Linked DNA regions of Homo sapiens: all the other regions are linked to region 4. The links come from fine-mapping of genetic effects on gene expression. A gene starts in region 4. Each other region holds a variant in brackets. All regions are shown on one strand. Distances are from middle to middle. Region 1 has its middle 26 kb from the start of GNS. Region 2 overlaps TBC1D30 (TBC1 domain family member 30). Region 3 overlaps RASSF3 (Ras association domain family member 3). Region 4 holds the start of TBC1D30 (TBC1 domain family member 30). Region 5 has its middle 6.3 kb from the start of GNS.

The links. PIP is the estimated chance that this variant, and not a neighbour inherited with it, causes the effect. A credible set is the group of variants that fine-mapping cannot tell apart.
Region 1: its variant is the best candidate, but not a certain one, in a credible set for the expression of TBC1D30 in lung (TOPMed, PIP 0.62).
Region 2: its variant is the best candidate, but not a certain one, in a credible set for the expression of TBC1D30 in spleen (GTEx, PIP 0.56).
Region 3: its variant is the best candidate, but not a certain one, in a credible set for the expression of TBC1D30 in whole blood (TOPMed, PIP 0.85).
Region 5: its variant is the best candidate, but not a certain one, in a credible set for the expression of TBC1D30 in whole blood (TOPMed, PIP 0.59).

What each region holds. Positions count from the first base shown.
Region 1 is chr12:64,783,647-64,787,766 of GRCh38, forward strand. It overlaps a transcript of TBC1D30 not described here. Among named protein-coding and RNA genes, the nearest start is that of GNS, 26 kb to the left of the region's middle. The variant A/G (reference allele first, on the strand shown) is at 1,642.
Region 2 is chr12:64,874,208-64,878,327 of GRCh38, forward strand. It overlaps TBC1D30 (TBC1 domain family member 30), which reads left to right. Exons shown (of 12, transcript NM_015279.2): 12 at 794-4,120. The coding sequence ends at 1,581. Among named protein-coding and RNA genes, the nearest start is that of LINC02389, 7.5 kb to the right of the region's middle. The variant A/G (reference allele first, on the strand shown) is at 2,229.
Region 3 is chr12:64,690,184-64,694,303 of GRCh38, forward strand. RASSF3 (Ras association domain family member 3) reads left to right here. Exons shown (of 5, transcript NM_178169.4): 4 at 1,287-1,396. Among named protein-coding and RNA genes, the nearest start is that of GNS, 67 kb to the right of the region's middle. RefSeq lists a silencer at 4,006-4,120. The variant A/G (reference allele first, on the strand shown) is at 2,197.
Region 4 is chr12:64,822,448-64,826,567 of GRCh38, forward strand. TBC1D30 (TBC1 domain family member 30) reads left to right here and starts at 2,200. Exons shown (of 12, transcript NM_015279.2): 1 at 2,200-2,586. The coding sequence starts at 2,433. RefSeq lists a silencer at 2,020-2,259 and an enhancer at 2,898-3,405.
Region 5 is chr12:64,763,620-64,767,739 of GRCh38, forward strand. It overlaps a transcript of TBC1D30 not described here. Among named protein-coding and RNA genes, the nearest start is that of GNS, 6.3 kb to the left of the region's middle. The variant AAAAT/A (reference allele first, on the strand shown) is at 2,394.

The DNA of each region.
Region 1 (4,120 bases), 39 kb before region 4:
TTTTCACCCTCAACTCTGAAAAAATTTTCCCATATTGAACAATAAATGTAATTCAGAGAACTGGAGTTGTAGGCACCTTAGGGATCACTGGAAATGAGATAATGTAAGAACCCTTTTGTGGAGGAAAAGTATAATTTAAATGTTTTGTGATTATATTCCTACCCCTTTTATTTCTAGAAGGAAAATGTTGATTTGGTTCTTTGGTTTCACCATGTTGGTCAGGCTGGTCTCAAACTCCTGACCTCAGGTGATCTGCCTGCCTCGGCCCCCTGAAGTGCTGGGATTACAGGTGTGAGCCACCGTGCCCAGCCCAAAATATTGAAATATTCAGAGAAAGATGTTTGTTCTATCTGAAGGCATCTAGGAATGAAGAGCCTCTGGTTGCCTCTTGTAGGCTTTTTCTCATATTTAATCATATTTTCATTTAACTTAAATGTTCTCTTTTCATTATATCCTACTATGTTTAAAATTAGGGGGACAGGAAGAACTAGCCTTTGCCCTCTTCTTCATGGTAATTCCTTATTTTTACTTAAAGCGTTATTTATGTTAGTGTTTATAAAGACCATACCCATTTGTTTCTCAGCATAATCCTGTATGCTAGGCATAATTTGAGACTTGGAGCACACTTCCTTGCCTAAAAATCACTCAGAGAGTTGGCTGATCCAAAAGCAGTCCTTTTTAACTCAGGGCCAAATGCATTTTCCATGGTGAGGTCAGGTTTGAGAACCCTGCATTTGTTTGTTACAGACCCCAAAAGTTGACTTTGATCTCTAGAGTGCATTTCTACTTTTGAGCATTTATTTTCTTCTCTTCTGATTCTCTTTAGTTTCTCCATATCCCTTTAAAAATGAGTAGATCCAAACCCCACAGAGAACCTCTAATGGGGGGCTAGCTAAGGTTAAGTTGAGTGGAAGGCTTTGCCTGCCTACTAGATCATGCTCTAGTGACTAATCATATCAAATGTGACCAAAAAAAACCTCCTCCCAAATCGTAATGATCATTTATATAAAGACAGTAGACAATTCTGGTTCCCAAATTTGTTTTGACCTATAGAAAAACTGCTGTTAAGGGGAGGGAGAGCATTAGAACAAATACCTAATGCATGTGGGGCTTAAAACCTAGGTGATGGGTTGATGGGTGCAGCAAACCACCATGGCACATGTATACCTGTAACAAACCTGCATACTCTGCACATGTATCCTGGAACTTAAAGTAAAATAAAGTAAAAAAAAAAAAACTGCTGTTGTGAATATTAGTTTTATGAATGTAGAATTATTGTAATTTATCTGTGTAAAGGAAATTTATTTTCTACCATATTTGAAAAATTGCTGAGGCTCTAAGATGAAATATTGTACCTCTAAGACAAAATGTTTTTAGGCTATTGGAAGACTGGATATTCAAAACAAAATCAGTATTGCCACATTCATCTACATTACAAAATGTGGTAAAATTATTTACTTTTAGCTCATCATTTGTAAACATAGATGAGTACTTTAAAGACTTTTTTTTTTTTTTTTTCTTTGAGACGGAGTTTCGCTCTTGTTGCCCAGGCTGGAGTGCAATGGCGCGATCTTGGCTCACTGCAGCCTCCTCCTCTCGGGTTCAAGCAATTCTGCCTCAGCTTCTGGAGTAGCTGGGATT[A/G]CAGGCATGTGCCACCACTCCCAGTTAATTTTGTATTTTTAGTAGAGATGGGGTTTCTCCATGTTGGTCAGGCTGGTCTCCAACTCCTGACCTCAGGTAATCTGCCCTCCTTGGCCTCCCAAAGTGCTGGGATTACAGGTGTGAGCCACCACGCCTGGCCTTTAAAGACTTTTTTTTTTTTTTAATTAGCTGTTAGGTTTATTATTAATGTAACAGACTAAAAAAGATTCTTTTCTAGCAAGCTTACCATCTGAACACTTCAGTGGTACAAAATATACATGCCAGTTTTCAGGCAATGAAAAGTAAATTTGCAGCCAGAGCTAGATATGGTAAAAGTAGGAGTTTTTGCTCCATGTTACAGATAGGCTTAAGGATAAATTTACCTTACAGTATCTGTCTCATGGACAGGGCAGATAAATGAGTGACTTATTTGATCGGAATGTCCGAGCTGAATGCATACATGTAATCTTGAGTGAAAACCTAGAATTAGTTGGTTTAAATGGATGTTCTATTTATCTTTGGACTAATATCACACTGGAATTTGTATTCCTCTCAAGGTATTAATCGTTATTCTTATTTTTCTTTACTGATAGACGCTAATGAACTGAAGACGATCCTTCGAGAGCTAAAGTACAGAATTGGCATCCAGTCGGCCAAGTTACTTCGGCATCTGAAGCAGAAAGATAGGCTTCTGCATAAAGTGCAGAGGAACTGTGATATTGTGACTGCCTGCTTGCAGGCTGTGTCACAGAAGAGAAGTAAGTACTGGAATTGGGTTACTTCTTTTGCCACATGCAACTAGAATGTTAGGAAAGCTGAGCCAACAGTCTGTGTTTGTGAATATATTGAGAAGTTTTAAATGCAAGCTTATACCCTCAGAACTAAGAACAAGGAACAACTCAGACAGTTTCCTATTTTTCAGTTAAAATGTATACTTCATGTCTAATGTTACAACCTTAGATTTATTATTCTAGATTTGAAGTAGTACTTTACTTTGACAATAATTTTACCTAATGCTGAATGATGATTACAATTTTATTTTATTTATTTATTTATTTATTTGAAACAGAGTCTCACTCCGTCACCCAGGCTGGAGTGCAGTGGCGTAATCTTGGCTGAATACAACCTCCGCCTCCCAGGTTCAGGCAATTCTCCTGTCTAAGCCTCCTGAGTAGCTGGAACTACAGGCGCCCGCCACCAGGCCTGGCTAATTTTTGTATTTTTAGTAGAGACGAGGTTTCACCTTGCTGGTCAGGCTGGTCAGGCTGATCTCAAACTCCTGATCTCAGGTGATTCACCCTTCTTGGCCTCCCAAAGTGCTGGGATTACAGGCGTGAGCCCCTGCGCCTGGACAAATTTTTATTTTTAAAACAGCATCACTGGCTGGGTGTGGTGGCTCACACCTATAATCCCAGCACTTTTGGAGGCCGAGGCTGGTGGATCACCTGAGGTCAGGTGTTTGAGACCAGCCTGGCCAACATGGTGAAACCCCATCTCTACTAAAAATTAGCTGGTCGTGGTGGCTGGCACCTGTAGTCCCAGCTACTCAGGAGGTTGAGGCAGGAGAATCACTTGAACCTGGGAGGCAGAGGTTGCAGTGAACCGAGATCGCACCATTGCACTCCAGCCTGGGCGACAAGAGCGAAACTCCATCTCAAAAAAAAAATAAATAAATAAAAATAAAAATAAATAAATAAAACAGCATCACACAGACATAACCTAAAAGGCATGTCCTTTTTCTCTTATTCTGTGTTGCTACAGTAAGTGAATTAAATAATTGATTTAAAGAAATCGATTCTTGTAACAGGACCTTAACAACTTGCTCTGAAATCTGAAGATGGCAACATAGTTTAGCAAATGTAACCTATCTCTTGCATAATCATAACTAAGAGCTGTGTGGGAGCTGTGTGGTTTGTTAATCAATTAAAAATAAATTGTTAAATTGCTGATACACATTAAATACTAGGTATAAAACCTTGTGAATTAATTTTAAAATTCTCCATGCAATAGCCTTATGTTTTATTCTGCTAACATTTAACTATTTTTGTTTTGCATTCTTTATTAACATGCAGCATGGCAGAACAGTATGCTCAGGTATGGTAAATATAGGTACAATGATGTTTTTGATAAAATGCCTGTGACAGCTTTTCAGGCGATTGTGGAAGTTGCCTTTTGTTGCTCTTTCACTCTGTCACATTTTGTACGTAAATTGACACCTCCTAGAGTGCTTTTTTTTCAAAATTGCAAATTAAGATGTGTTTGCTTTCATGAAACAATTTTTGGGGTTTGATTAGTTTCTGGTAATGAAATTAATCGCTTAAATTTCATTCTTATGTTTATTATTAAAAGAAAATCCTGTATTTTCTTGCTTCTCTTCTATTATATTGCTGTTTGTTATCCCTAAAGTATTATTTATGCTGTTTATTAAAGAAGGTTTTACCTAATAGATATTAACAGATTGCTGCAGGCCGGGCATGGC
Region 2 (4,120 bases), 52 kb after region 4:
CTCCCAAGTAGCTGGGACTACAGGCATGCACCATCACACCTGGCTAATTTTTGTATTTTTAGTAGAGACAGGGTTTCACCATGTTGGCCAGGCTGGTCTCGAACTCCTGGCCTCAAGTGATCCTCCTGCCTTGGCCTCCCAAAATGCTGGAATTACAGGCATGAACCACGGCACCTAGCTGAGGACAAAGCTTTTGGTGCTTTTCAGTTTTCAATTGGCTTTCGAAGTCCATTGAGGACACAGGAGTGGTTTTTCACCTGTAGGGCTAGATGCTGGATAGCTGTGATTTCACTGCATTCTCACTACCTTTTTATCACTTCTGTCATTCTGCTGGATCTCACTTCATAATATGCAGTGTGTTCTTTTCCTACCTCTCAGAGGCTGACAGATGATAATCCATATGGTCATAGTGTTTGTTGTATTATTTTTTTTAAATCTGCAAAGATTTTTCTAAGTACAGTAACTCAGAGGTTGCTACTCAGAGCCAAGAGCTCTCTGTAAAAAAAAAAATTAGGGAGTCCAGGCTCTGATTAGGAATGAGGGGTCAGATGTTCCTTTTTGTATCATCACCCTGTGGTCCCTTCCTCTTTAAAGAAGAGCGCATTGGTATTCCAGGCTCTTCGGTTGAATTCAGTTTCTGCTGTCTTCAGTCACATGACTCTGCCCCTCCCTGGGGAACACATGGGAAGGGATGTGGTAGACGGGGCTGGGAGGACCTCTAAGTGATTTCTGTTCCAAGATGGATGTGTTTCTTTGTGGTACACTTCATACTACCTTTCAACATTTCTTTCAGACAAAGGGCCAGTGACCAGCATTCTCCCGTCTCAGGTAAACAGTTCTCCAGTTATAAACCACCTTCTTTTAGGAAAGAAGATGAAAATGACTAACAGAGCTGCCAAGAATGCTGTCATCCACATCCCTGGTCACACAGGAGGGAAAATATCTCCTGTCCCCTACGAAGACCTTAAGACGAAGCTCAACTCCCCGTGGCGAACTCACATCCGAGTCCACAAAAAGAACATGCCAAGGACCAAGAGTCATCCGGGCTGTGGGGACACCGTAGGGCTGATAGATGAGCAGAACGAGGCCAGCAAGACCAATGGGCTGGGGGCAGCAGAGGCATTCCCCTCTGGTTGTACAGCGACAGCTGGGAGAGAAGGCAGCAGCCCTGAAGGCAGTACCAGGAGGACGATCGAGGGGCAGTCTCCGGAGCCGGTGTTCGGAGATGCTGATGTGGATGTGTCTGCAGTTCAGGCGAAGTTGGGAGCCCTGGAACTGAACCAGAGGGATGCTGCAGCTGAAACTGAGCTCAGGGTGCACCCACCCTGCCAGCGGCACTGCCCAGAGCCGCCGAGTGCACCCGAAGAAAACAAAGCCACCAGCAAAGCTCCCCAAGGCAGCAACTCAAAAACCCCCATCTTTAGCCCTTTTCCCAGCGTCAAGCCCCTGCGGAAATCTGCTACTGCCAGGAACTTGGGATTATATGGCCCTACAGAAAGAACCCCAACTGTGCACTTTCCTCAAATGAGTAGGAGCTTCAGCAAACCCGGCGGTGGAAACAGTGGCACTAAAAAACGATGATGTCTCCCCGAAACTTTGTATCTGGACTCACCTTTTCACAGTAGTATAAGGGTTGCAGCTGAATGGCTCTAAAAGAGTTTTATTTGTCCAGTGAAAATGAATAGGTTCAGGGATGAGCAACAGCCCATAAAAAATGGGAACTGGAAGTTTTATAATAGGAGTTAGAACAGGGCTGTTTTCCCAGCTACTTGCTAACTGACGAAGTGGATTCTTGTGGCAAAATAAATATTGTGGTTTTATAGTGTGAAGTTTTCCCAATTTTTCATTGTGAGCTGTTTAAAAAAGACTATATCTAGATTGTTAACTCTCGTCCATCCTTCTGTTCTGGGGGCCTTCAGAGTCCCTGTGACAGCACCCCCAAACCTTCCAGTTCTCTGGGTGTTACTAATACTCAAGCATGCACATACCAGCTTGCTAGGACAGAAACTGTAAAAAGAAAGTAAGTTTCTTCGTTACAAAAAACTTCCTGATTTTCCTTTTCATGCTTTACGGAGGGGATTGTGTCGTGTGAGATTTCCCACAGTACCAGTTTCAAATTTTTTTTTTATTCTTATGCTAAATCATAGGAGAAAAATCTAGATAGCCTTTCTTTAACTGTCTATTTCTACCTGCAAAATGAAGAAAACCTTTCATCTGTTGAAATTTCA[A/G]TCGATAACCCAGCTGAAGATCTTATGCACAGGACACACTTGGCATATGCTTTACGCAGTTGCTCCGGACAGCTTGCTCGCGCCACTGAGCTTTTCCTGAGGTTTGTGTTCGCCTCTCAAGGAGAGCTTTGATCCTCAGTGGTACGGATGACTTGATGGGCTCCATGCGGAGCCTGGCCTGCATCCCCCACCACACAGCTCACTCACCCACCAGCTCTAGACTGCAGACGCACAAGGCCTCTGCTCAGAAGCCAGAACACAGCACCTGTGACTCTGTTACTTGAATTTTGTGCTTTTTGATTGGAGTCCTTTGTTGAGTACTTTGTTAATTGAACACTGCCTTTCTCTGGAGAAGGCCCCAGTGCTTTCTAGCTCCCTCTCACTCCTGCCCTTTCTAGCTCTCTCTCACCCAGCGGGTCAGGGATAGCACCTCTTGTCTCCACTATGCAGATGGGAACTCTGAGCCACACAGAGGTGAAGTAGCACTTCAGTTACTCAAGGTCAGTACTCTCGGTATTCCAAGTGACTTAGCCACATTTCCTTCAGTGCAATAGGTGGGTTTAATGCTCTTTGTACACAGATGTATTGGCTACATAGCGTGTAAAAACCAAGACTGGGAAGCCATTCACTAAAATCCCTCCTGACTCAAAGGACCTGTCTCCAGATGGTACAGAGTCCCTTGATGGCATTTTACAAAACCAGCTCTGACTTCCTTATCCTGAACAGGGAGTTTATTTTAAAAATGCTTCATGCACCTGTTATTTGGCTGAACAGAAGGCTCACTCCTCAATCCCCTTCTCCTCGCCATCATTAGAGGAATAGACTCAGCCTTCATGTTTGTCTCTGGAAGACGATTGGCGATACTTGCAGGAATATTGTTGATGCAGCCAATATTAATTTGAGCTAATGGATTGTTAATTCTGAAACGAAAACTGTAACTGTAGAGCAGGCTTTTACTATGAGAGGTACTACTTTTTATAATAGAGAATGTGGTTGTGTGGGCTTTTTTTGAACAGAAAACACAACAATGACCTATACCGTGAGAAAAGCCATTTTATCTTCTTCGTGGTATTTTTACCCCCAAAGGAACTGAAGATGGAAAATATGACTAATAAGTTATTGCAGTTTTGGTCTTGAATTCTGTGCCATCTGAAGTTAGCATCCAGCTTCTTAAAAAGCAGCCACGCCTACAGCCTGTTTTTTGGGAAGGCTGTAGGTGGAGAGATGGGCTTATTTTGCATACCACCCTCAGGGCCCAGAGACCCACTGCATTTTCCAAAGTTAAGCAAATGACACCATTTTCTTCCATCAGCTAAACTTTACAGATAATAGTGTTTCCACCTCATATCCTTTTCTTTGCCCCTTCTCAAATGAGTCAGAATAGTCATGTTCCCCTTGAGGGATGTCTGACTTGAATGGAGAATTGTTCTTTCCTCTCTTGAATCAGCTCACTAGCTCCCTGATGGTCTGGGTTCAAGGAAATGGTTAATGAGGTAGAGGCCACTTATACAAGTCCTTGGGATTGTACCATTGCTGTCCACAAACTTAGTATCAACAACACATGCTGTGCCCTGTGAACACTCTCCTCTCACCTATTTCCAGGGTTGGTCTTCCTGAGAAGGGGATGGATGAGGTAACACACAGTTTGGGATACGTATCTGTTGAATGAATGAATAAGTGAAAGGATAATAGTCCTCTGAGGTAAAAATGGCCTTGTCAGAATTTTGAAAATCCAACAGATTCCTATTAAAGCACTCTGTGTACCAATAACATGCATGCATTGTACCAAGTAATCACAATGTGAATTGGTCAATTTATGAGCCTTGCCTACTTTAGAAAATAAAGAAACCTGCAGTAGCCTCTACCACACAGCATGTACAAAGACCAGTATG
Region 3 (4,120 bases), 130 kb before region 4:
TTTTGTTTGTTTGTTTGAGACGGAGTCTTGCTCTGTTGCCCAGGCTGGTGTGCAGTGGCACAATCTCGGCTCACTGCAACCTCCGCCTCCTGGGTTCCAGTGATTCTCCTGCCTCAGCCTCCCAAGTAGCTACAATTACAAGTGCCCACCACCATGCCCAGCTAACTTTTGTATTTTTAGTAGAGACAGAGTTTCACCATGTTGGTGGCCAGGCTGGTCTCAAACTCCTGACCCCAGGCAATCTGCCTGTCTCGGCCTCCCAAAGTGCTGGGATTACAGGTATGAGCCACCACGCCTGGCCTTGGTTTTTGAGACAGCGTCTTACTCTGTCACCTAGGCTGGAGTACCATGGCATGATCATAGCTCATTGTAACCTTGAACTCCTGGGCTCAAGTGATGCTCTTGCCTCAGCCTCCTAAGTAGCTAGGACTATAGGCGGGCCCCATTATGCCTGGCTAGTTAGAAAAAAAAATTTTTTTTTTTTGGAGACCAGGGTCCTGCTATGTTGCCCTGGCTGGTCTCGAACTCCAGGCCTCAAGTGATCCTCCTGCCTCAGCCTTTAAGTGTTGGGATTACAGGTGCGAGCCACTATGCCTGGCCTATTTTTATTGTTTTTAAAGGAGTAGTGGACCCTTTTTTAGGTTTCTTATCTTGCCTTTTTTTTTTCATTTAAAAAAAATTTTATTTATTTTTTGAGACAGAGTTTCACTCTTGTTGCCCAGGCAGGAGCGCAATGGCACGATCTCGGCTCACTCCAACCTCCACCTCCCAGGTTTGAGTGATTCTCCTGCCTCGGCCTCCCAAGTAGCTGGGATTACAGGTGCCCGCCACCACGCCCGGCTGATTTTTTGTATTTTTAGTAGAGACAGGGTTTTGCCATGTTGGCCAGGCTGGTCTCAAACTGCTGGCCTCAGGTGACCCGCCCACCTCGGCCTCCCAAAGTATTGGGATTACAGGCATGAGCCACCATGCCTGGCTCTTACCTTGTTTTCTAAAAGGAAGAGCAGAGCTAACTATAAGCATATTTTGGGACTAATATCTATTAAAATTTATTCTTGAAAATAATTTCCTTCTTAATCAAGGCACAGTTTATATTTGAACAGAAACAGAATAGATTTTATTCCACTGTGGGCTACTGGTATTAAATAATAAGATGAGCCGACTGGCGACTTAGAGGCTGGGGTAACTTGGATGGTTACCTTGATCTGGAGGAGGGGATCACAATGGGGAAGTGGTCTCAGGAATGGCTGAATACTCTGTAACATGCTGCTTGTTTCTTTACCCAGTCTACGCCTGCAAGCTCTCAGACCGGGAACATCCACTCTACCTGCGTTTGGTAGCAGGGCCCAGAACAGACACACTTAGTTTTGTTCTTCGTGAACATGAAATTGGAGAGGTAAGTTATTGTTCACTATTGCTTTAAACTATACAGAACAGCTGGCCCTATTTTATTGCAGTAGCCTAGTGACTTGGCTATTGATGGGGGATGGGAAGAGAAGAGAGTTGGAGGGCAGGGGGATGGGAAGAGAAGAGAGTTGGAGGGCAGGGAGAGGGAGAGGGATTTTGAATTGTCAGAAATGAACCCAAAGTTAGCCTATGATGTCATTCTCTCACAACCTTATATTATTAGTCTGTCATTTTCAGAGGTGGGAGAAAATAAAGTTTTTTTACTTGATCTCCATCCAGAGAGTCATTTTCACCCCTTCCCACCTCCAAAATACTCCAGTCCAGCTGAACTTTGAAAGTTGACACTCACCATGTGTTTGCTACTAACAAAAGTCTCCAGGCTAATTCCCTTCTAAAGGGATATAAAAGGAAATTCGATCTCTTTACCATGGAAGGCATTTAGCTTTCTAGCATCTTTTTTTTCCCCCTTGCCCAGTCAACTGATTAAGAAATTATGTTTCCATGTGCATCATTTGCCATGTTGTCTCCAGGGAGGATTGTATTTAGCCAGTTCAGTAGAAGAAAAAAAGCACTTGAGCCTGCCCTCTAGATCAAGTGTCAGCTTTAAATGACACTTGAGCAAATCCCAAGCTCCTGTCCCAGTCTTCTGTCTGGAACAGGAAATGGTGTGAAATGTCCTACATGGTGCAATTGAGAATAGGGTTTCTAGGTTAAAAGTTAGGAAACGGCTCTGTTTCCTACTGTTTGTTAGATTAGTAGCATGACCTTGGATAAGTCTTCTAATCTTTT[A/G]GCCCTCAGTTTTAAAATCTGTTAAGTGGGACTAAACACTTTACAAGGTGGGCTTTGAGTCACAATTAGAAATGTATACATGTAAGTGAAGGGAGTTTTAGGAAGACAGTGGTTTTACATGTTTTTGAAGTTTCTTTTGATTCTGGTGTTTTGAAGCTTTTCAAGACATTCAGACTCATTTTGGGGAGAAGGCAGGGTGCAGAAATCTGACTTGGCTTTGCAGATGGTGACCATTCCCTCTGCCAGCTTAAGCCAGACACATTAGCATAGTCTACTCAGTGTTTTATTTTTCTTGTACTTAGTGTTTTAAGTAGCAACTAGAACTACATTGGGCAAGAATTTTATTAACTTGGTTATTTTATTGTATTTTAATTATAATTAGAGATAGGGTCTCACTACGTTGCCCAAGCTGGTCTCAAACTCCTGGGCTCAAGCAATCCTCCCACCTCAGCCTCCCAAAGTGCTGGGATTACAGGCATGAGCCACTGCACCTGGCCTTAACTTAGTTTTGAAATTGACTTGACATTGGGTTTTATTGTTCCAGACTGCTGTACTGGACCTCTGTATGGTGTTCTTATTTCTCAGTTATTTAAGGAAAACTGAACTGAGGAAGAAATTTCCATAGCTGTTAGGGGGTGGGAGGGATATTTATATGATGTCTTTATTTTGGAGACTTCAACATAGGTGAAAGATAATCTGTTAAAATTTTAAAAATTAACAGAATATTCTAACGTAGAAGTTTTGCTCTCCTACTCCATGTTGCTCTTTTTTTTTTTTTTTTTTTTAAATAACCAGCCTAAACTGTTCTCCAGGAATTCTTCTACCACTGAGCCCATTTGGTGGATTTACTTATTTTTCACTCTTTGTTTGTATTTGGTTATCTTGAATCTTTTCTCTACACCATCAGACAGCAGTTCTCCACCAGGATCCAGGGCCCCCTTTGGGAGAGGAGGATGTGTTTGGAAAAAACCTCGTAGATGATGCTAGATACCCTCCTTGACATTCACTGCTTCTATTTTTTAAAATCTGTTTTAATTTTTTTTTTTTTCTTTTTAAAGAGACTAGGTCTTGCACTGTCACCCAGGCTGGAGTACAGTGGCGCAATCATGGCTCACTGCAGCCTCAATCTCCCGGGCTCAAGCAATCCTCCTACCTCAGCCTCCCAAGTAACTGGGACTACAGGAATGTACTGCCACAGCCAGATAATTTTTAAATTTTTTGTAGCGACCTGGTGTCACTATTTTGCCCAGGCTGGTCTCGAACTTCTGGTCTTGAACTTCTGGGCTCAAATGATCCTCCTGCCTAAGCATTCCAAAGTGCTAGGATTATAGGCATGAGCCACAATGCCCAGCCTAAAAACTTATTTTGTGCCTGCTAAATAAGTACTAGGAGCTGTTAGGGAAACAAGGCTCAGAGCCTCAAGGCAAGAGATAAACTCCAAATAGCGAGAAGTACGGCAGCTGTGGTGTAGGTAAGGTGCAGGTGAGATAGATATTAAGCAAATAATTGTAATTTAAAAATCTTGGTTGTGATCAGGGGCTCTGTGAAGGCTTTTGATACACTTAGCCTTGGGTGGGAAGAGAGGAGAGGAAGTTGTGGAAAGCTGCTTAGAGAAAGTGGCATTTAAGCTGAGATGGGGAGGATGAGTAGTTCATAGCCAGGCAAAGTGGAGGAGGGGAGAATGCGTGCCACTTGGGCAGAGAGTGAAGCTCGGTGAGAGAGAGATGGGGCCGGAGAGTTTAGAGTCTTTCAGACAGCATCAGCAACTAAGGGAAGCCATTGGATGGTTCTAAGCAGGGGAGAGTCTTGGCCAGATGAGCATTTTACAAAGGATGTTCTGTTTGGGGAACAGATGGGGGAGCATAAGAGCCGAGTGAGGAGGCCAGGTAGGAAGCTGTTCCAGCGATGCAGGAATAGATGATAG
Region 4 (4,120 bases):
TGGGATTACAGACCTGAGCCACAGCACCTGACCCAGCAATTAATTGCTTTTTGTTTTTGTTTTTACTTCTGAGGCAGGGTCTCACCATCACCCAGGCTGGAGTACAGTGGTGCGATAATGGCTCATTGCAGCCTTGACCTCCCTGGCCTCAGGTGATCCTCCCACCTCAGCCTCCTGAGTAGCTGGGCCTACAGGTGTGTGCCATCATGCCCAGCTAATTTTTGTAGCTTTTTTTTTTTTTTTGTAGAGATGGGGGTTTGCCATGTTGTCCAGGCTCAGCCATTGTTTTTCAAGTTCAAATTGTTTCATCTTTGGCCAATAGGAAGGAGCCTATTTATGTGACTCTTGTGTCTTTTTGACTTGACCCCATTAATTGTGAAACATTTCCTTTCTTTTTGAGCTCATCAAAATGTTTCAGGGTCATCTTGTACTTTTTCTGTCCCAAACCTGGAATCAGTCACTCCTCAAAGGAGCCTTAGTTCCTTTGAGTGGGGAATGGTTTTTAGAGACCATAACCTGGGTGCTGTGGGTGTTCATTGCTGCTGAGTTGTCCTTACTTCTAAACCTATTCAATGAATGTATGTATTTTTTTGAAAAGAAAAAAAAATGAGTTCATACTAGTGTTTCCCATATAAATATATAATTGTAATATTTTAAAGAAAACTTAATTACTTTGGTTATACACATATTTTCTATTACACTGAAAACATCTTGGCTCCATTTGATGTTAGCATACTTATTTATTTGCTTTATCCTGTAGTGGATATAAGAATTTAAGAAATATGAATATTATTAATAACAATAATACTACTGAATGAAATGTAAGGTTTCTTTGCAGTTTTATTTGCTCTGGGAATATGTACAACTGTTGATGTACAGTCATAATATTGTGTTCTATGTCAACTTAAGAGAGAATTATTTTTTTCTGTGTTCTTATGCTATAAGTGGGATAGTCCATTAGGTTGATTTGTTTCCATTAATTTTCAATTGTTAGGGTTTTCTTTTACAATTTAAAAATAATTTATTCATTTATAGTCAGGGACTAGGTCTGTTGCTCAGGCTAGAATGCAGGGGTGCAATCATAGCTCACTGCAGCTTTGAACTCCTAGTTTCAAGACATCCTCCTGCCTTGACTTCCCAAAGTGCTAGGAATACAGGTGTGAGCCACCGTGCCCAGACTATTTTATGTATTTTCAAATTTTATTTTTATTTTTATGTCTTTTTAAGAGATGGGGTCTCGCTATGTTGCCCAAGCTGGCCTCAAACTCTTGGGGCTAAGCAATTTTCCCACCTCAGCCTGCCAAGTAGCTGGGACTATAGGCATGCTGTTCCATCATCCTGGTTTTTTAAAAATTTAATTTGTTAATATTATTAATATAGTGTTATTCCAGAGCCAAAACTACAGGAGGCACATCAAGAGAGGACTCAGTTTTCCATTCTTGTCTCCTCCACGATGTTCCTTCTCCTATACAAGTTTTCTAATTTGTTTTTGGTTTATCCATTTAGTGTTTCTTTTTATAAATATTAGCAAACACAAGTATCTTTATATCCCCCCCCCACACCCTTTCTTTCATCCATTTTAATGGTAAATAGTCTATTGGTGAATATTGCCGTTTGAGAATGACTTTTTTTTTTTTAAACCATAATGATGGGCAATAGTTCAGAACTACTGAAGTCTGGCTGGAGAGATGAGGAACATTACTTTTTAATACTGCTTGAAAAGAGAACACTTTTTTTCTGGAAGCCCATTTTTCTAAAAGAAACAATAATTTTTTTTTCCTTCATTTTCTCCGCGCCTCTCTAATCTGCCAGGAAATAATTCAACGCAATTCGGGCTGAAGCGTGTGCCTCGCCGCCTGCGGTTGGGTCATGGCCCCTTCTGAGACTGCTCGGAAGTGGGAGAGGATGCTTGCCCTTACGGGTGTTCTGCCCCTGAGACTGGCGCCCCTTGGTGCTCCCTCTGTTCCCTCCCAGATCTTGGGAGAAGCACGGACATCTCTGTTTCTGCTTTTGGTCCCCGAACGCAGTTACGCGCCCACTGGCTCCCTGTCTCTGGCGCTTCTGGGCACGGGGGAGCTGGGGCGGCCCCGCCTGCGCACGGCGGTGCCGGGATTGGGGGCGGGCACGCCGCCTCCGTCTCCCACGCGCTCGCTCGCTCGCTCGCTCCCGCCCTCCCCGCCTCGAGCGATCTCCTGCCTCAGCCTTGCAGGCTCCGCACTGCAGATGCCTGCTGGCTTCCCTGCGCTCGGCGGCTCCCGCGGTGCCCCGTAAGTCCCCGTGACCCTCCAGCACCAGCCGGCTGTGCGCTCCCTGCTCCCACGGGCCGGTCAGCCGCAGACACTCACCCAGCTCCGCGAGCTCAGCCGCTCAGCGAGTGGGGTAGCGGGGACCGAGACGGACGGTAGCCGTGCCAGAGCCCGGGGCGCTCTCGGATGCGGCAGGACAAGCTGACCGGGTCTCTGAGGCGCGGGGGGAGATGCCTGAAGCGGCAGGGCGGCGGCGTGGGCACCATCCTGAGCAATGTGCTCAAGAAGCGCAGCTGCATTTCCCGGACCGCGCCCCGGCTGCTGTGCACCCTGGAGCCGGGTGAGGACCCCAGGGCTGCAGATGGGGCGCTGTAAAGTAGCGCCGGGGCTGCCCGCGCTTCTGCCTTAGCCTGACTCCGTCTAGGCCGGGGAGCTCTGGGGAAAGTCCGCGTGCCACCTGGTGCGGGGCACCGCGTTGGCACCTGCAGGGAGCGATTGGTCTGGAAGGGTAGAGGGCAGACGGGGGCCTGGGTGGGGCAGCGGCCACCCCAGGCGCGGAGAACCCGCTGCTTCCACCCTCTCCCCGCGGACCCCCACCCTGCGGCCTGTGTGCTCGGCTTTCTCCGCGTGGCGGGGAAGTGCGGGTGGCTGCCCGGGCCCTCAGAGGCCGCACCACCTATTGTGTTCCAGGCTCGCAGGAAGCCAGACCTTGCGAGAGGTGTGTGGGGGCGGAGAGTGGCACAGGTTTGACACTGCAGGTCGGAGGAGGAAGACAGTGGCTGCAAAGGCAAAATCGGGTGTTATTTTCCCAAGAGTCCCTTCAGCGTGAGTGCCGGGGTCAGCTCGAACTGGAGCCTGTAATTTGTGAGTGCGAGTGGGGAGCAGCAGGAGATCCTTTTCATAGGTGAGGTCCAGGAACGAGCCTGGTCGTGCTAGGCAAGGCCCTTCCCACTGTCAGCCTGTGTTTACCCATCCCTGCTTCTCCAGACTGCATAACTCCGTGTCGGCTCCATCACCCGGCATCCCTCCCCGGGATTTTAAGAGCCTGGCCCTAGCGCGGGCTCCTGGGCACGGAGGTTTCTGGCAAGGAGTGGCTGCAGAGGGAGTTGGCTGTACTCTCACTGGTGCTTGGCGCTCACCTGTTCCCTGGAGTGGCACCGGCTGCGTTCCAGGCGGGTTCACGGTCCCCGGCCCCCGCCCCCCAGCGCCAGCGCCTTGGGGACCTGCTGTAGAGCCGCAGGAGAATCGAGCTGCAGAGTCCCAAAGGGTGGGATGCGGCACTGCCTTTCCCAACCTCGTGGTTTCTTTGTTGTTCTCCCCTAGGAAGTGTCTAGTTGCAGAGGCTGTAGTATTTATTCACCATCTTCCTTTACCTCTTTTTTTTTTCTTTTAAATCTCCTTCCCACGTTAAAAGTAAGTGTTTTGTATTTCTGAATCCGGAATAGCTGTGATTATCAGATGAAACATAAACCTTCTCTCTGCCCGTATTCTGTTAGAAGAAAAGAAAAGTGGGGTGAAAGTGACCTGGTTTAAGCTTTTGCATGCAGGCGGCGAATCAATTTCAGTTAAATCCTCTTGCTCATTTTTGATCATGAGAGGATAGTTGTGGTTTTGGCCAACTAACCCCTGCTGGGTTTCACTATGAGAAGGCAATCGGCATGATGCCCAGCAGGTGCCCCGGAAAAGTCAGAAGAGCATATTGGTCAGACATACAGGGAATCCTTGTAGTGTGGCAAGAATAAGTCAGCGCGGGACCGAATTTCCTGGTCTTTGTTATCAAGCAAACGTCATGATTATACGCTCCTCCATTCAGCACCTCGCGTCCGGACAGCAACCTCACTTGTTTTCAGCGTGCCTTAAAGCGTGCGCTGGGC
Region 5 (4,120 bases), 59 kb before region 4:
TTTTTTTTGAGACAGAGTCTTGCTCTGTCACCAGGCTAGAGTGCAGTGGCATGATCTCGGCTCACTACAACCTCCACCTCTCAGGTTCAAGCGATTCTCCTGCCTCAGCCTCCCAAGTAGCTGGGATTACAGGTGTACACCACCACATCCAGCTAATTTTTGTATTTTTAGTAGAGACAGTGTTTCACCATATTGGTCTGGTCTCGAACTCCTGACCTCAGGCTGGTCTTGAACTCCTGACCTCAGGTGATCCACCCACCTTGGCCTCCCAAGGTGCTGGGATTACAGGCGTGAGCCACCATGCCCAGCCTAGCCAAGCTGTTTTTTAAAGAGCATGCAGCCCTTTTTCCTAATCATTATAATAGCTGTGTTAACAGATGACTGATTATAAATGCTGTTTAACCACAGGTTAAAATAACAATCTTGTTTTACTTTGTTGAATAATGTCTCAGATGTTTTCAGTTGGCTAAAAATATTTAAAAATTGCTCATAGGTTTTCCTGTTAGAAAGTAGTGCCCAATAATTGCCAACTCATCAGTGGTTGTCATATCCAGAATAGAATACATAATAGTATTTGGTGTTTGGTTATGTGTTTGACTTACCACTTTTTAAACATTTTTTTCATTATTTCAATTTTTTCCATAAATTGTTTTAGTAAAATAAGTTGTGTTTTCATTTTGACATGTTTTTCCAAGAGCTTAAGCAAAAATGCATCCAATTCAGCTATTAGTTGAAAAATTCCTGTGGAATTTTCATTATAGGAACAATAGTACTTTTCATCATGACCTCTGAAGTGTAACTTTCACTTAACGTTTAATAACCTCAAAACTTCCATCTCTGGCCACGATGGAGTAACAGTGCCAGACTAATTCTCTTGCTAAAAACAACTAGAAAACAGGGCAATATAGATGCCTTTATACAAGTGACAATAGTGAAGGACTGTGATCCACATGTAAAGAGAAACAAACAATTGCTCCAACTTTTTGCCTGGTGGAGGGACATTCTGAACCAGAGAGCAGGAAATAGGATCTCATGCTTGACAAAGTTGACTTGCTAACTTTGGGTGGACAGAGATCAAAGTTGAGGGAGATTGAGGCAGCTGGAAGTTTGCAGGGAAGAATTCCAAAGAGAAGGGTGCTGTATAGATTTAAAAGCTCCATAAGTTTGTACAGATGTCTTTCTGAAACTTTGCTGAACACTGAGATGTGCATTCACAGGGTGAAACACCACCAGAAGGCAAGGCAAAGAATGACCAAGGTAATGTAAAACAAATAATTCTCAGAGGGGTTGGGATGTTTGAGATCCAGCCAGCCATAGGGGAAAGTCCTCCTTGATCATCAGGAGCACTCCTTAGGAACCTGGAAAGGTCGTGCCCTAATAGTGGAGCTAAACTATCATGAGTAAAAAGTACTGTGCACCCACAGAAACAAAGCTTGGGTACAGCCCTCAAAAGATCAAACTAATCTGCAAGGAAAGTAACTTGCTTTCCAGAATAAGGCTCAACACTCTTTCAGGGAAGACTACGAAACCTAGATATTCAACAATATGAAATTCACAATGTCCTGCGTTGAATAAGAAAATTACTACACAGGGCCGGGCATCGTGGCTCACGCCTGTAATCCCAGCACTTTGGGAGGCCGAGGCGGATCATGAGGTCAGGAGATCAAGACCATCCTGGCTAACACAGTGAAACCCCATCTCTACTAAAAAATACAAAAAATTAGCTGGGCATGGTGGCGGGTGCCTGTAGTCCCAGCTACTCAGGAGGATTAGGCAGGAGAATGGCGTGAACCCGGGAGGTGGAGGTTGAAGTGAGCCGAGATTGCGCCACTACACTCCAGTAGCCTGGGCGACAGAGCAAGACTGTCTCCAAAAAAAAAAAAAAAAAAAAAAAAAAAAAATTACTATATAGGCTCCCAAACAGGAAAATGTGACCCCATGACCAGAAGAAAAAATTGTCAATAGAAACAGATAATAAATGACAGGGATGAAGAAGTTAATAGATTAATGTGTTAAAACTCCTATTATAACTTGTTCAAGTATTTAAAGGAAAACATGAGCCAACTGAGAAGAGAGGTGGAAGATATATAACTGGGCCAGGCACAGTGGCACACACTTGTAATCCCAGCACTTTGGGAGGCCTAGGTGGGCAGATGGCTTGAGCCCAGGAGTTTGAGACCAGCCTGGGCGACTTGACAAAACCCCACCTCTACAAAAAAAAAAAAAAAATACAATACACAAAATTAGCTGGGCTTGGTGGTATGCTCCTGTAGTCCCAGCTACTCAGGAGGCTGAGATGGGAGGATCACTTGAGCCGGGGAGGTCCAGGCTGCAGTGAGCCATGATTGTGCCACTGCATTCCAGCCTGGGTGACAGAGGGATACCCTGTCTCA[AAAAT/A]AAATAAATACAAATAGAATCTATAACTGAATAGCACTATATCTGAAAATTCACTACATGGATTAAGAGATGATTAAACAATATGGGGGGGAGATAAGTCAACTTGAAGGTATAGCAAGAGAAAAATACCCAAAATAAAGCAAAGAGAGAAAAAAACGAAAATAAAAATGAGCAGGGCCCTTGTGACCTGTGAAACAAAATCATGGGGTCTACTATTTACATAACTGGAATTCCAGAAGGAAGAAATAATTTTTCGAAGAAATAATAGTTGCTGTCTGCATATAGAGAAAACTCTGATCTCAGATTCAAGAAATTCAGTGAACCCCATGCAGAAAAAACATAAAGAAAATCATACTGAGAAACATCACAATCAAAATTCTGGAAACTAGTAATAAAGAAAAGTAGACTTTATGACAAAAATATTATTAGAGATAAAAACAGGGCATTTTATAATGATAAAAGGTTCAATCCATCAGGAAGATATAACAATTATAAATATATATGGACCTAACAAAGTACCAAAATTCTTGAAGTAAAAACTGATAGAAATAAAGGAAAAAATGGACAACTCGATAATAGTTGGAAACTTCAATACTCCACTTTCAATAATGGATAGAGTAGCTAGGCAGAAGATGAACAAGGACATAGAAGACTTGAATAACATTATAAAATAGGTAGACCTAACAGAGATCTACAGAACTCTCCACCCAACAAGAGCAGAATCTATACTCTTCTCAAGTGCCTGTGGAATATTCTCCAGGATAGACCATGTACTAGGCCATAAAACAAACCTCGATAAATCTAAAAGGGTAGAAATAATACAAGTATGTTCTCTCACCACAGTGAAATAAAATTAGAACATAAGATTCCCAGAGAAATTTGGGTAGCTCACAAATATTTGGAAATGAAACAACATACTCCTAAATAATCAGTGGATTAAAACAGAAATCAAAAGGGAAATTAGAAAATACTTTGAGATGAATGAATATGAATACACAGCATACTAAAACTTGGGATACAACTAACATAGAGCTTGAAGAGTAATTTGTGGCTGTAAATGCCTATATTTAAAAAAAGAATGATCTCATATCATTAATTTAACCTTCTACCTTAAGACACCAAAGAAAGCAAAATAAACCTAAAGCAAGCAGAAGGAAGGAAATAATAAAAATTAGAGCAGAAATTAATGAAACGAGGATAGAAAAAAATAGAGAAAAATCAATGAAAGCAAAAGCTGATTCTTTGGAAAGATTAACAAAATTGTCAAATCTTGGTGGTCCCTATCAGAGATATCCCATATCTCCATTTAAGTAGCCAGTCTGGCCCCTGCAGAAAGGATCATGGGAAATGATCATAGCCTACCACAAGCTCAACCAAGTATTAGTCCTGACGCTGTGGCCATGCTGGATTTGATACCTTTGCTAGACAAAATCAATATGACTACAGGTAAATTTTAAGCAGCCACCGATTTGGTGAATGCATTCTCTTCTGTCCCTATCAGAAAAGAGGCTCAGAAACACTTCACATTCATACAGAATGAACAACAAAAGACATCTACAGTTTTGCCCCAAGGTTATGTTAACTCATCTCTGTGTCACAATATGTAACTATGTGACTATGTGTTATAATACAGCCCTGACAAATCCAGACTGCCCAGGTATCCTGCAGAACATCTTACCCATCCAATACATTGATGACATCATGCTGATCAGGCAGGATGAAA